Regions from separate parts of the Homo sapiens genome. Here region 2 is linked to region 1. A link means that fine-mapping ties the variant in region 1 to the expression of a gene that starts in the linked region. Tissue or cell type: whole blood. Region 1 holds a variant in brackets; the other region holds the start of a gene. All regions are shown on one strand. Distances are from middle to middle.

Region 1 (8,108 bases):
AAGGACTTGAGCATCTGTGGTTTTAGTATCTGTAGAAGTCCTAGAACCAATCCCTGGCAAATAACAAGTGATGACTGTACAAAGAAGGCCTCGGACATAGATACATTTTTAGTACATAGATAATTTTTTTAAGTGGGCCCTTCATCTTCAGGGATTAGATCAATGTTGTATAGACCTAAGACAACGTGTCCCAGTGGTGGAACAGTGGAGGAAAAATCTGGTCTGTGCATCACGAGATGGTTGTACTAGGGTTAAGAAAATTAAGGGAATCATACTGGGAAAGCTATGATGGAAGAGGAAGGAGGAGCCCATATATAAAATCGAGTATTGGTTTCTATTCTTTTCTTTTTTTTTTTTTTTTTGAGACAGTCTTGCTCTGTCGCCCAGGTTGGAGTGCAGTGATGTGATCCTAGCTCACTGCAGCCTTGAACTTCTGGGCTCAAATGATTCTCCCACCTCATCCTCCTGAGTAGCTAGGATAACAGGTGTGCACCACCATGCCCAGCTAATTTTTTACTTTTTATAGAGACAGGGCCTCACTGTGTTGCCCAGGCTGGTCTCCAACTCCTAGCCTCAAGCAGTCCTTCCACCTTGGCCTCTCAAAGTGCTGGAATTCCAGCCATGAGCCACCACACCCATCTTGGTTTCTGTATCTTGAGTCTAGTTAATTGAACAAGGCTTTACTCCCATAATCTTAAGATTCCTGACTCAATTTTGAAATAATGGAATCCCTGCTTGTGGGAGTGATCCTGTTTCTGGGAAGAATTCTTCCACAATAGAAACAAAAAGCAAAGGACTAGGATTCGGGTAGCTTGAAGTTATGGCTCTTCCCATCAGTTTTATGATGTTGGACAACTGGTAGAGAACCTCTCTGGGCCTTAATTATTGTATTTCACCTGGATATATCAGACAGCCGACTTCCTCACTGAGTTACAAGGCTTGAATGAGATTGAAAACAGCTTCATAAACTGAGGCAATAAAACAAGGTTTTCATAAAATGCTACTTTAGAGTGTCAGAGGTCTGACTCTGAGCTGAGTTGAGCTGGGTGGGTTGGCTGAACCTCTCTACCTTGGTATGGTCTGTTTCTGAGTGGGGGTTTGGGCTCATCTGTCTTTAGGCTGCACCAAGGGCTGTGACTACACGCTAGCATTGATGATTGAAAACATTTTAATAATTTGCCATAAATATCCAAGACAATAGGTAGTTTTCTGATTCTAATAGATTATGTTCTGAGCATAGGCCATCTGTCACCTAATGAAATCTGAGGTCAATTATAGAGAATTTTTCCTCCATTTGATGGGACCCATAAAATTTAGGTCACTCTCAAGCACCAGCACCAACCTTAACAGAGAGCACATATCAAAAGATACAGATGTCTTTTGTTTGCCACATATCATATGAGAAAATATACTTGAAATTGTAGGATGATGTAAATGGGTATGTTCAGTATAGGTCTACATTTGATCCAGCAATCCCACTACGGGGTATCTACCCAGAGGAAAAAAAGTCATTATACGAAAAAGATACCTGCACACACATGTTTATAGCAGCACATTTCGTAATTGCAAAAATGTGGAACCAACCCAAATGCCCATCAATCAATGAGTGGATGAAGAAACTGTTTTTTATAGATAGATAGATAGATAGATAGATAGATAGATAGATAGATAGATAGATGATAGATGGATGATGGAATACTACTCAGCCATAAAAAGGAATTAATTAATGGCATTCGCAGAAACCTGGATGAGATTGGAGACTATTATTCTAAGTGAAGTAACTCAGGAATGGAAAATCAAATATTGTATGTTCTCACTCATAAGTGGGAGCTAAGTATGAGGATGCAAAGGCATAAGAATGACACAATGGACTTTGGGACTCAGGGGGAAAGGGTGGGAAGGGAGTGAGGAATAAAAGACTACAAACTGGGTGCAGTGTATACTGCTTGGGTGATGGGTGAACCGAAAATCTCACAAATTACCACTAAAGAACTTAACTTATGTAACCAAACACCACCTGTTCCCCAATAACCTGTGGAATTAGAAAATTTTTAAAAAATGTATTAAATCCACTCTTTGGAACTCAGATAACATCTCCAGAACACCCCAGTGCTTTGTTCCCAACATCCTTTCTAAGTCTGCACCAAACAGCACAGGCACTCTCTTCTCCTCACGTATCTTCCTTGATCATCACTGAAACTCATGTAGAAGGATGAACTGGAGAGCCGAGTGCTGAAAACCCCTCACAGCTGTCTTCTCTTCTCACAGCCTTTCATCAGAATGGCATCACACTATCTAATTTTCCCCATCTGGTAGGTGAGAAACGGTATCTCAGTATAGTCTTAATTTGCATTCATTTGTTTGAGTGAGGTTGAACACCTTTTCATATGTGTAAGGGCCATTTTTATATCGTGTTTGTGTGTGTGTGGTCTGTTCATGTTTTAAGCCCATTTTCATGTCATATTTTTGGACTTTTTCCTCTCCATTTTTAAGAGTTCTTTATATATTAGGGATATTAGCCCTTTCTGATGTATGTTGCAAATTTTTTCTTCAAATTTCTCCGTTGTATTTTTACTTTGTTTATGGTATTTTCCCACACAAAAGGTTTTTTATGCAACAAAATTTATCAAATTGTTTTTACTATATCGAGATTCTGAGTCATAATTAGAAATCCTTTCTCTATACCCATTTTTTAAATGAATTTGCCTCACCTTTTCTTCCAGTATTTGTTTCTATGCATTAATGAAATTATTGTCTAGATATAAAAACCCCAAATATTCTATAAAATAGATCCTAGAACCAACAGGTGAGGTTAGCAAGTCACAATATATATGGCTAATATTCAAAACACAATTGAATTTCAGTATTATAAAAATAAATGATTGGAAATTAAAAATTTTAAAATACTACCATAGTACCATTTACAATACATCAAAAAACAAAATACTTAAGAATAAATCTAACAAAAATATGCAAAGGATTGTATGCTGAAAACTGCAAAACACTGCTGAAAGAAAGCAAAGCCTTAAATAAATGGAGAGATATACTGTATTCATAGATTGGAGAACTCAGTAGTGGTAAAATGTCATTTTTCTTCAAATTGACCTATAGATTTAACACAATTCCAATCAGAAACATAATAGGCTTTCCTGTAGAAATAAGTTGATTCTAAAATTTATGTGGAAATGCAAAGAATGTAGAATACCC[G/T]AAATAATTTTGAAAAAAGCAACAAATTTGGAGGGTTCATACTAACTGATTTTAGTTTTTTTAATTTTTAAAATTTTTTGTAGAGATGAGGTCTCCCTATGTTGCCCAGGTGGATCTCAAACTCCTGGGCTCAAGTGATCCTTCTGCCTTGGCCTCCCAAAATGCTAGAATTACAGACATGAGCCACCACACTGGGCCCTAACTGATTTTAACACTTATGGTAAAGCTATAGTAATTGAGCTAATGTAGGCTTGGTGAAGTAAGATAGACAAGTAGAATGAAGAAACAAGACAGGAAATTTAAAAAATAGATCGATGCATAGAGGATCAATGAACTTTTGACAAAGGTGCAAAGGCAATTCAGTGGACAAAGGATAGTCTTTACAACAAATTATGCACATCTACATGTTAAAAAAAAAACCCACCTTGATCCATATCTTGTACCATATACAAAAATAAACTCTAATGGGATCATAGACCTAAATGTAAAATCTAATGGTATAAAGCTTCTAGAAGACAGCATAAAAGAAATATTCTTAAGTTTGGGTGAGGCAGAGGTGTCTTAAATATGACAACAAAAACACAATTCATAAAATTAAAAACTTGATAAGTTGGACTTTATTAAATTTAAAATCATTTCTCTTTAAGACATTAAGAGAATGAAAAGTAACATCAGAAGCAGAATATTTGCTCTCTCTAGATATCTCTGTATACTACATATATCAAATAAGAGCCTTATATCCAGATTATAAAAAGAACTATCAAAGTTCAATAATAAGGAAACAACAATTTATAAAACAGGCAAAGAATTTGAACAGACGCTTCATCATAGATGATATGTAGTTGGCAAATAAGCACATTAAAAGAGGTTCATAGTGATATGCAATTAACATCATTTTTAGGATATACAAAATAAAGCTACAGTAAAATACCACTATTGACCTATAAGAATGAATAAACAAAAAAAAAAGCAAAAGAATACAGTTGACAATAGCAAGTGCTGTCAAGGATGCAAAGCAACTGAAATTCTCATACATTGCTGGTGGGAATAAAAAATAGGGAATAGTTTGGGCATTTTTAAAGTTAAACCTGTATTTACTCCTGGAAAGCTTTCTTCTTCTATTACAGTTCTGTTTTTGTTTTTTTAGGGACAGGGTCTCACCCTGTCACCCAGTTCAACAGTTCAATTATAGTTTTAAATGATAGTTACATTGTTTGCTATTTCTTCTTCATGTACTCCAGTTATACCAGTGTTGCTTTGGACTGTCTTCCCTGTCAATCACTTTCTTCCTGACCCATTTCACTTCTTTATTTCATTTCATTTTCTTGCTTGTTTGCCTTTGTTCAGTGCCCATATTAAATTTCCATCTGAGTACATTCTCCTTTGGGTGCTATAGCGAGGTGATGATGACCACGCCCACCCCCACACCCCAAAAATGTCTACTCAGAACCTGGGAATATGATCTTATTTGGAAAAAGGGTCTTTGCAGGTGTAATTAAGTATCTCAAGATAAAATCATCCTAGGTTTTCTGGTTGAGCCCTAATTCCAATTCCAAGTATCCTTAGAATAGAAGGAGAGAAGACACATAGAAACGATGGTAATGTGGGAAGGAAGGTGGAGATTAGAGTGACGCATCTATAAACCAAAGAACAACAAGGATTGCTGGCAGCCCCCAGAAGCTATGAAGGAGAGATAGAGCAGACCCTTCCCTCAGAGCCTCGGGAAGAAACAAGCCCTGCCAGCCCCTTGATTTGAGACCTCTGGCCTCCAGAACTGTGGGAAAATAAATTCCTATTGTTTCAAGCTCTCAGTTTATAGTAATCTGTTAAGATAGCCCTAGGAAACCAATATAAGTACCCTCTTAAAATTTATGTTTCAATCCTAAGATTATTTTTCTTTTTCTTTTATTTTCTTTCTGAGTTCAATCAACACACTGTTCATTACTTCCCATTTTTTTCTAAATCCATTTATATTTTAATTTCTGATTAAAGATAGTTTTTCAGGCCAGGCGCAGTGGCTCATGCCTGTAATCCCAGCACTCTGGGAGGCCAAGACAGGTGGATCACTTGAGGTTAGGAGTTTGAGACCAGTCTGGACAACATGGTGAAACCCCGTCTCTACTAAAAATACAAAAATTCCCTGGGTGTGATGGCGCCCACCTGTAATCCCAGCTACTTGGGAGGCTAAGGCAGGAGAATCTCTTGAACCTGGGAGGTTCAAAAAATAAATATAGTTCTAAAATTTATGTTTGAACCTGGGAGGTTCAAATATATACATATATACACACATATATACATATATATACATATATACACATATATGTATATATATGTATAGCTTTTCACATGTCTATACTTGTTTGAGGTTATTTGAGTCTGGAGTGTAGCATTGCAGTTTTCCTCTGCTTCATGGTCATTTTTGTATTTACCTCCCTTGGAGTGGTGGAAAATTTTTATCACTTGAGGTGTGTTGAGTCTCTTTCTTTAAGAAGCTTTGCATAGATTTATTCCATTTTTTGTAATTCTTTTTGTGGATGTGGGCTAATTTACAAGATTCTTCATTTAATGGTGCCCTCTTCTGTCAATGTGGTGAAGTACAGCTTCTTTAATGATTGTGTTTTGGTACTTGGGGGAGGAATAGTGTGTCTTCCAGGAGATATCCAAGCCTGTTATGCACACCAAAAAATATAAAGCTCTATCTTAAAGGCTTTACCTTTCAAATCCAGTATAGTTGAAATTTATTGTCTCTGAAGGAAGAACCTCCAAGAGCACACAACACGGTGTCCTTGCATTACTGTCAGGTGATAACTTCACATTTCCTTATATGGCATGTTTCCTCTGAGCCATCCATTCCCACCTTCACCCTGCTGCCTCCTCCCATGTGCCCTCTCTCTCTAAAAACCACGTTCTGGTATGTCCCACAAAAGCAAGGAGATGTAAACTAAGAAAGAAGCAGTGTGAGGGAAAAAGGAACAAGATTCACAGAGGAGCAAAGGAAATTCCTAAGATGATGATGAAATGAAGTTCTAGGAGAACACTTGTTTAATGTAGGGTTAGAGATCACCAGTTCAGGAGAGACAGCGCCCCCAGAGACTCCCCTCCAAAATGAAGCTTATAGGCCAGGCGTGGTGGCTCATGCCTGTAATCCCAGCACTTTGGGAGGCCAAAGCGGGCGGATCGCTTGAGGTCAGGAGTTCAAGACCAGCCCGGCCAATGTGACAAAACCCTGTCTCTACTGAAAATACAAAAATTAGCCAGGTGTGGTGGCACACACCTGTAGTCCCAGCGACTTAGGAGGCGGAGGTGGGAGAATTGCTTGAGGTAGGGAGGCAGAGGTTACAGTGAGCCAAGACCATGCCACTGCACTCCAGCCTGTGCGACAGAGTGAGATTCTGTCTCGAAAGAAAGAGAGAGAGAGAGAGGAAGGAAGGAAGGAAGGAAGGAAGGAAGGAAGGAAGAAGAAAAGAGAAGAGAAAAGAGAAAGAGAAAGGAAGGAAGGATTAAAAAGAAGCTTATAGAATATTTAATATTTATAAATAATTGTACCAACAAAAGTTTGACAGCTGTGTCAGAATTTGGGGATAAACTGGTGATATTACAAAAGAATACTAAGCAAACAAAAAAATGTAATCATTAACTCCAGGGTAGGGGGGTGGTTAAAGAAAAGGAAAGAGGCCAGGTGCAATAGCTCACACCTGTAATCCTAGCACTTTGGGAGGCTGAGGCAGGTGGATCATCTGAGGTCAGGAGTTCGAAACCAGCCTGACCAACATGGAGAAACCCTGTCTCTACTAAAAATACAAAATTAGCTGGGCATGGTGGCACATGCCTGTAATCCCAGCTACTCGGGAGGCTGAGGCAGGAGAATCGCTTGAACCACAGAGGCGGAGGTTGTGTTGAGCTGAGATCACGTCATTGCACTCCAGCCTGGGCAACAAGAGGGAAACTCTCTCTCAAAAAAAAAAAAAAAATGCAGGGGGCGGGGAAAGAAAATGTAACCATGAAACCCATACATAACTCAGCTGTAAATAACATTTACATAGTCAAAACATATAATCTTTGAATATTGACTTAACCAAATATGATGCTATTATAACTACATTAGGAGTGGGGTATAGAAGAATTGTGTGTGGATGAGGTGTGAATTGTAAGATGGCTAAATCTTTATCATCTATTGTAGTAAATAATATTTAAAGTCAAAAAACAAAAACATGGCAGTATAATCATATCCTTTAGGAAAATGAAAGTGAATACTATAATAAATGGCGAAGATTTGAAAGTGGTTCCCTCTGGGAACAGGAATGTATAGGTGAATGGGAGAGAAGAAATGGAGAATGGGTGCTTTCATTGTGATACTCAGGTGATGGTCTGAGGATCATGCAGAAGAAGTATTAATGTAGCATTCTCCTGACTTCCATATCAAATACAGGCACTCCTTGACTTAAGGTGGGATTAAGTCTGAACAAACTGATATTTTCAACTTATAATTGGTTTATCCTGATGTAGCCCCATTGTAAATTGAGAAGCATACTGAATGCTTATAACTTTTGCACCATCCTAACGTCAAAACCTCTGAAGTTGAACCATAGTAAATCGGGGACCATCTGCGTCTCCACTCACGCACACTACAGCTCCTTTGTAGGCCAATTCCCCTACACCGTCTCTACATCTTATATTCTAAGACTCAAATCAGGTCCCGTATTCTCCTGAATGTCTTCCCTGTTTGCTTGAACAAAACTGGTCTCTGAGCACTCATATTCATAATCTATTATACTTCTTTGGGCAGCTCATCAAATTCTCTTTCATAGTATTAGGTAAGAGTGATTTGGAACTTGCAGCAAATGCTAAGCCCTCAGAGGAGGCAGGGAAGTCATAAATGCTTGTTCAATTAAAGCAAACAC
Region 2 (8,108 bases), 180 kb after region 1:
AAATAAAAGTTTAAAAAAAATAAAATTTTTGATCGAGACCATCCTGGCTAACAAGGTGAAACCCCGTCTTTACTAAACATACAAAAATTAGCCGGGCGTGGTGGCGGGCACCTGTAGTCCCAGCTACTCGGGAGGCTGAGGCAGGAGAATGGCGTGAACCCGGGAGGCGGAGCTTGCAGTGAGCCGAGATTGCACCACTGCACTCCAGCCTGGGTGACAGAGCGAGACGCCATCTGAAAAAATAAATAAATAAATAAATACATAAATAAATAAAATTTTTTAAAAGCTGGTAAGCACTCAAGCCTGCCAAGAGGTCTGACCAGTCATAAGAATGCATCATGTGACTTAATGCCCTCAACAACCCCAGGAGATTCATACGCCTTACTCCCCTCACTTTACACAACGCAGAGGCAGCCTGCTGGTTTTCTGTTGTTGTTGTTTTGTTTTATTTTCTGTTTTTGAGACAGGGTCTCGCTATGTCCCCAGGCTGGAGTACAGTGGTGAGATCGCGGCTCACTGCAACCTCCACCTCCCAGGCTCCAGCGATTCTCCTGTCTCAGCCTCCCAGGTAGCTGGGACCACAGGAGTACGCCACCATGCCCAGCTAATTTTGTTCTTTTATTTTTTGTAGAGATGGCGGTGGGGGAGGTAGTCTCACTATGTTGCTCAGGCTGGTCTCAAACTCCTGAGCTCAAGGAATTCGAACTCTTCCCTCCTCGGCCTCCTGAAGTGCTGTGATTACTGGAGTGAGCCACCACACCTGGCCCAGCCTGCTGGTTTTAAAGTAATACTAGAGACAGGAAGATGACCCCAAACCCCTCCTATGGCCTGAGCATCTTCCGCTCCGCTGGAACAGCCTGTGCAGAGACTGGGCAAGGAGAACCCTCACTGTACAAAGAAGGAAACTGGAGCCCAAGAGGTTAAGTAGCATGAACAGCTAAGTGGCGCCTCTCTCTTCTGTCTTCTCACTGCCTCTTGCCTTATGATTTCATACAAAGCAGCCCCTAAATGGGGAAGCACAAGACAGAGACATGGAGGAACCCAGCACAAGAGTAAAGTGAACCGTTCAGCAAACACTAAAGAAAGCTGATCCCCAGAGATAATTGCACTATTCAGCATACCTACTACTGGGATCCCTGGCTTTGCTTAATAACCAAACCTATTTAAATCCATAAGGAATTGGTTCTCTGACTTAAAGGGTGTTGTTATAACAACCATAACTTTGGCTTTTCTCTGGAGTACCAACAACTACTGGTTTGATGCAACCATTTCCCTTTTACGCAAAAAGGTGCACTAAAAGTAGACCACGCATTGTTGTGTATCATTAGGCAAGCAATTTCTCTTCTCTAGGCCTCACTTTTCCCATCTGGAAAGTAAAAGGGTCCAGTCACATGATTTCTGAAGTTCCTTACAGGGTCAGCGTCCTGGTGAGAAAACTATACTGCAGTGCCAAGAGGAATTGATGTAGGATTTTTCTTCTTGGTCCTCGGGCCAGCAATGCCCCACCTGTGCTCGCTCGGCCATGCAGGTGTGTCCCAGCTCACTGTATTATAGCTTGTACCCGCGTTCGGTGGTTCCGAGCTCGTGCACCACACCAAAGGATAATGAGGATACACTGGACATTGAAGGGAGAGGAAGGCAGATAAGAATTTTATTGAGTGTTGAAAACAGCTTTCAGCAGAGAGGGGACACCGGGTTGGTCCCCTACCTGAAGACGGAAAAGTTCCCCAATGTGGCTGGGTCAGGGGCCTTTTATGGACTCAGAATAGGGAGTGCATGCTGACCGGTTTGTGAGTATGCAAAAAAGATGAAAGCAAAGACACCACTCAAAGGTGGGCACGGCAGCGTAGAAAACCAATTAGGAAAAAGTGGGTATATGTAAAACAGGCGAAATGTAGGAATCAATTAGGGGAAAGCACGCCAAACAAGTTCTCACTCTGGTCTGAGGATTTAACTCGTAGCTTGGCTTTCAGGCTTTAAACTGTCTTTGGCCTGGAGGTGGGGGTTTCACCGGGTACCTGACCCTATCTGCCTAGGCATCCAGCTGCCTCCTGTTGCTACCAGAATCACATTGAAAGTGAAACACGCTGGAAACTCTAAGGAAAAGAAACAAGTGTAACTAGGAGATAACAGGCACAGTGCAAAACAACATGTTAACTTTGGGGAAATCCGGCTTCTCAGTGTTTTTTTGGTTTTCCTACTTCTCTGCCAAATACAAAAATAAGCAGCTACTTCCATGGGACTCTCGTTAAAAAAAAAGTAACTTTAATAAGATCAGTGAAAACAATGCTTTGTTCTCCCACAAGTGGCTCAGGAGTAGCTTGCTAAGACACACTTTCTTCCCCGTGGGGCTGATGTCAACAGCCCATGCTTTTGCCCAAACAAAGGCCTCCTGGCACAAGGATGAGAGGCAAAACATCTGAGTCTCCGTAGCTGGCCTTATTCCAATTTGAGGGGAAGGGGCAGCCAGGAGAGAAAAATAACTAAGCTTTTGAAAGGCTTGAAGGAGAGTAAGGAATTACTAAATCTATTTTTTCTCAACAGAATAAAGAATTCTTGAAAGGGATAATGGAAGGGTGCAGCTTTCTATTTGAATTACTCTTTGTTTCACCCTATTCTGCCTAAGGCCACTGCCTTTTAGGCCAATCACAGAATCCCGGTTTTGCCTTTAGTTGCCCGCTGAGCGATGCAGTGGGAGTTGGGAGACCCACACTCAAGTGTTCTCTCTGTGGCCCGTTTCACCCGGTTTAAACTTGGACAAGTGGCTGAACTCTCCGGCCTCAGCTTCCTGCCTGTAAAATGAGAAGGCTCCCTAGATGCTCTCTAGACCTTTTCAATAACAGCGGAATAGGATTGGAGGCTCTCCAGTTCCCCCCCCGGGGACAGGTTAATCTTCAGCCACACTAGCCAAGGTGAGGCAGCAGCCCGCCCGCTCAGCAGGCACACACTGGGGCGGCGGCGCCTCCATTCCTGCTCACACTGCACGCCCACAACCTGCACCAACACCATCGCCTCAGAGACCAATTCACCGCGAAACCATCTCCCCGCTGCAGATCGTGTCCGATTAACATCTGCAAAGCTGAGCTGAGCATATGTAAGCAAAGAAAAAGCAAAACAAACAAGAGTTCTCTTTTTCCGGACCTCGGAATTTCTTTCAAATAAACTCAGAACTGAAAATTGTACGTCCCCAGCTAGAATACGAGGTCTCGGCTGGCCTTGCTTGCGAAAATGCATTAACAAGCCAAAAGGGGCTAGTGACATCTGGGGTGTCTGGGCACACGGACACGGGCCTCAGAGGCAAAGAGCAAGACCGCACTGGGCGACTCGTACATTCTTCCCGCAGGCTGAGGAGGCGACCAAAATATCCCCACAGAGGCAATCGCCGGAGTGCGGGGACAATAGTGCACCCAGCACTCTCTTTTTTTGAGGGGCACCCTTAGACCCTTAACCCAACCCACATCTCTAAGAGACCTCCAGGAGGTGAAGGTGAGGGGTGGTCCACTTCACCCAAAAGAATGCGCCACGGCCGGGGACCGACTCAGCCTGGAGTAACCTTTTTGTAGCTGCTTTCTTGTTTTGGTTTCCCTTTTTAAGTCTGGCAGTTTAGTCTGATGCCCAAGCGGTACCTTTTAAATGTCTCTCTCGCCCTCTTCCAGCAAGTGGCGCCTCTAGAGCCACTCCCTCCCCCGAGGCTGAGACAATGGCCCGGCACCGCAGGGCGGCCCCTAAGGGTATGCAGTGCGTCCAGCTCTCCGGGCAGGGCGCACGTGCGTTTGTTATGGTGCCTGTGCCCCCTCCGCTGCCGCGGGCCTCAATTTGTCGATCCGTAAACCCAGACTCTGCAAGGCGCAATGCCCCCACGCCACCCCACCCCATACTGACGGTGCCGTGGAGAAATCCGTGTTCCCCGGGGCTGTGCGCACGTGGGTTTGTTGTGGATCCGCAGGCTCGCGGAGCCAGAGAGAAGCCAGGGTGGCCCTTTGGCCCTGACAAAAATGCACACACCCCCAACCAAAAGGCGGCCAGCCCCGGAGCCAAGGCAGCTGAGGCGGAGCTGGAGAGAGATTCCCTGCGCCCTACGCGCGCCGCGGGCCCCGCGCCTCCGCTATCCTCCCGCGCCCCTTTGCATCACACTCCTCCCGGGATAGCCCGGGCCGCGCCGCCGCCCACCGCACCCCCTACTCACTCGCTGCACTCTCGGCCGCGGAGGCTGCGGTTGCTCAGCACGCTCGGTGGCGGCCGCCCGCTCCGCGCCCACGCCGGTCGGTATCGGCTCCCTTTGTTAACGCCGGGCAGTGCCCCAGGCGTCTTCCCCAGCCCGGCCCTGCCCAGGACTCCCCTCCCCCAGGTGACTCCAGAAAACGCGCTCGGCAAGGGCAGGATCGCCCGGGAGCTGGGGACCCCACTAGGGAGTCTCGAAAGAGGGGTCCGCTGGGGAAGAACGGGGGACAGAAGACGCACAGTGGAAGGGACTGGAGAAGGAAGGAAGAAGAGCGCGGCGGAGGGGCGGGAAGGAAGCGAGTCGCCTCCGTATGCAAATAGAGTTGCGAAGACTGGGTCGGTCTCCGCCCCCACTCCACCTCTCGCCACCGGCCACACCGCGCCCCAAACCGGCCTGGAGGTCGCTAGCGAGCGGGCTTGGGGTTAAAGACTCTTGATGAAGGCACTGGGTGATGCTAGAATCCTGCCTGCTCTCAAGGAGGGTGGATCGAGGGCCGAGTGGGAGGGGCCACGCGGCTGCGCAAGGACCCCTAAATGCCTCTTCCCCGCTTGGCCGCGAGGGGTCAATCCAGCAGTGTCCGGCTTTTGGTCCTAACATGCGGGTGCTGTACACCCGGTCTCTGCTACCGGCTGACTGCGAGACCCTGAGGAAGTCGCTTAACCTCTCCGAAGACTCGTGTTGCTCTTATCTAGAATAGGAAAGAACAAAATCTTTCACTGCGTTTGGCATTAACCTCCTAACATTGAGGCATGACTCCTACTGGGCGCTCTCAAATGGCAAATACAGAAGGAGAGGAGCGTCCTCGAACCCCTGCACCCAGAGGCTTCCACCCCAAGCTGCAGGCTGAAAGACTGAAGCCTCAGCCTGGATGGTGAAGGGAGCGAGGTTCTTTCTTTTCACCCGGACGACGGTGGGGCTGCTGGGGAAGGAAAGAGGATTAACCAAGCTGCGTACTGACCATCCCCGATAGCCCCAAGGCGATTTCCCTAAGAAAGAAAAACTGCCCAACAGGAGGGCGGAAGGGGCCTTTAAGGCCTCCAGTCCAGCCTCCCATAGCCCAAAGAGAGGATGTGACTACCAGAGGCAATAGTCATATCCCAGTTGTCTACTGAGTGCACACTAGGCACCAGGCTGTGTGCTGGGTGGGAAAGGGGAAAGGAAGGAGATACTGGAAGGTTTGGGGGTCCTCTGGGAACACAAAGTCCAGTGCACACTTAAAGTGCCTGAAGCCCAGGCCCAGAGTTCTGTCTCCAAATGAGGTGCCTACCCCACATCACCAACCTTGGAAAGGGAAGTTACATCCGCACCCTGTCCCCAGCACCCTTCTTCCAAACACTGCTTCCTCCCTGTCCTGATCCTGGCTCCCTTCTGCTGATACTGTCATTCCCTTCCCTGCTGCCCCTGAGGCATTTTTGCTCAGTACAAAGAGCTCCAATTGAAGGGAGTGCCAGCCAGAGTGAATTCAAATCTTTATGACCAACTCGCTGTGCCTTCTTGGGTGAGTTCCACATCCTGTGAGCCTCCCTTTCCTCTTCTGCAAAATGGAGATATTAAGGAAAGCGTTGTTTTCAGGATCCTGTGAAATGACCTACGTGAAACACGTAGCTTAGTGTTTGGCATATAGAAGGTGCTCCTGACAGTAAAATGTATGTATGCGTGAATGAATAGAAGCAGCCAAGTTCAGAAGACTATTTCTGGAAGGATGCTACATTGAAGATTTTAGGCCCTATTCGAAAAAGGGAAAAAAAAAAAGGAGGCTATTAAAAGATTCTGTGCAGTAGCATGACATGCATCTTTGTATTTTACAAGGATTCCTCTGGCACCACACTGGAAAATAGATGGCAGAAGCAGAGAATGCAAGAGACTAGATTGGAAGCTGACATCAATGGAGATATAATAAGAGCCTGAACTGTGTCAGTGACTGTAACAAGACAGAAGAAAAGGACATCTAAATAATAGCTACCATTTGGAGATCTGACATGGTTTGGCTCTGTGTCCCCACCCAAAAATCTCATCTTGAATTGTAATCCACATGTGTCAGGGGAGGGACCTCCTGGGAGGTGATTGGATCGTGGGGGGCGGTTTCCCCCATGATGTTTTTGTGATAGGGAGCTCTCACGGGATCTGGTTGTTTGATAAGTGTCTGGCATTTCCCCTGCATTCTCTCTCTCACCTGCCGCCATGTAAGATGTGCCCTGCTTCCCCTTCACCTTCCACCATGATTATAAGTTTCCTGAGGCCTCCCCAGCCATATGGAACTGTGAGTCAATTAAACCTCTTTTGTTTATAAATTACCCAGTCTCAGGTAATTTATAATTTTCTCAGTAGTGTGACAATGGACTAATACAGGATTCAAAGCACCTTATTTATTACATTGTCTCTCCTTTTCATCAGATAAGTAATGGTCTTAGTCCTATTTTATGGATTAGGAAACTGAAGTCATCTAGGAAGTGAAGAGAGAATTTGACACATTCTTCCACTTTCTTTGAAAGCTTTAATCATCTCCTTCATCATCACCCATATGTCAACATTACTTAAGAACTAAGAACAGCCTGGTGCGGTGGTTCACGCCTGTAATCCCAGCACTTTGGGAGGCCTAGGCGGGCGGATCATGAGGTCAGGAGACCAAGACCATCTTGGCTAGCACAGTGGAACCTTGTCTCTACTAAAAACACAAAACAAATTAACCGGGGCTGGGCGTGGTGGCTCACGCCTGTAATCCCAGCACCTTGGGAGGCCGAGGCGGGCGGATCACAGGTCAGGAGATCAAGACCATCCTGGCTAACATGGTGAAACTCCATCTCTACTAAAAATACAAAAACAAAATTAGGCGGGCACGCGATGACGGGCGCCTGTAGTCCCAGCCACTCAGGAGGCTGAGGCCGGAGAATGGTGTGAACCCAGGAGGCGGAGCTTACAGTGAGCCGAGATCACGCCACTGCACTCCACAAAAGCAGAAGGCGCTCTTTCAGAGGTTGTCCAGTCCCCACTCCGCAGTTCTCTTTTGCAGAGAACTGGAAAACCAAATTAAGGAGAAAACAAGGGAAAAGGTTATCTCAACACTGAGATAAGCACAGATGATATGACACGTGCAAAAATTTCCTGGGCGTCTGAGACAGATGAGTGGGCAAGCAAGGGTGCTCCTGGTAAAATTCCAGGATGGGGGCCATTGTGGAGCAGCCTCCACCAAGGTTCTCTCTTATCACTTAGGACCCTCTGACCTATAAGTGAGAGGCAGAGGCTGGGGCATTACTTTGGAGATGATCCTGTCCTCCCAGTCTATACATGTGAGGCTTCTCCTCCCATTTTCTCTGGGGTCCCTGCCTTGACAGGTTGGTTTTGGTTTTTTTGAGAAGTACAGATACCCACTTTCCCTCTGGACAGTATCTCAGTTCTGGGCCCTCCACCCACAGCTTCCTGCTATGGTCTGCATGTTGTATCCCCCCAAAATTCGTACAATGAATTCCTAACCCCCAAGATGATGGTATTTGGAGGTGGGGCATCTGGAGGAGGTGATTAGGTTATGAGGGCAGAGCCCTCACAAATGGAACTAGCGCCCTTATAAAAGAGACCCGGACCAGGCATGGTGGCTCACACCTGTAATCCCAGCATTTTGGGAGATTGAGACGGGCAGATCACCTGAGGTCGGGAGTTCGAGACTAGCCTGGTCAACATGGTGAAACTTCATCTCTACTAAAAATACAAAAAATTAGTTGGGCGTGGTGGCAGTCACCTGTAGTCCCAGGTACTCGGGAGGCTGAGGCAGGAGAATTGCTTGAACCCGGAAGGCAGAGGTTGCAGTGAGCCAAGATCACGCCACTGCACTCCAGCCTGGGCAAACAGAGCAAGACTCTCTCTCAAAAATAAGTAAATAAATAAATAAATA

The links. PIP is the estimated chance that this variant, and not a neighbour inherited with it, causes the effect.
Region 2: ST6GAL1 starts here. The variant in region 1 is fine-mapped to the expression of ST6GAL1 in whole blood (TOPMed, PIP above 0.99).

The regions. Positions count from the first base shown.
Region 1 is chr3:187,111,074-187,119,181 of GRCh38, reverse strand. No RefSeq gene overlaps it. Among named protein-coding and RNA genes, the nearest start is that of RPL39L, 24 kb to the left of the region's middle. The variant G/T (reference allele first, on the strand shown) is at 3,208.
Region 2 is chr3:186,926,913-186,935,020 of GRCh38, reverse strand. It overlaps ST6GAL1 (ST6 beta-galactoside alpha-2,6-sialyltransferase 1), which reads right to left and starts at 4,495. Exons shown (of 8, transcript NM_173216.2): 1 at 4,187-4,495. RefSeq lists enhancers at 2,049-2,108, 2,129-2,178, 4,272-4,880 and silencers at 4,075-4,264, 4,505-4,584.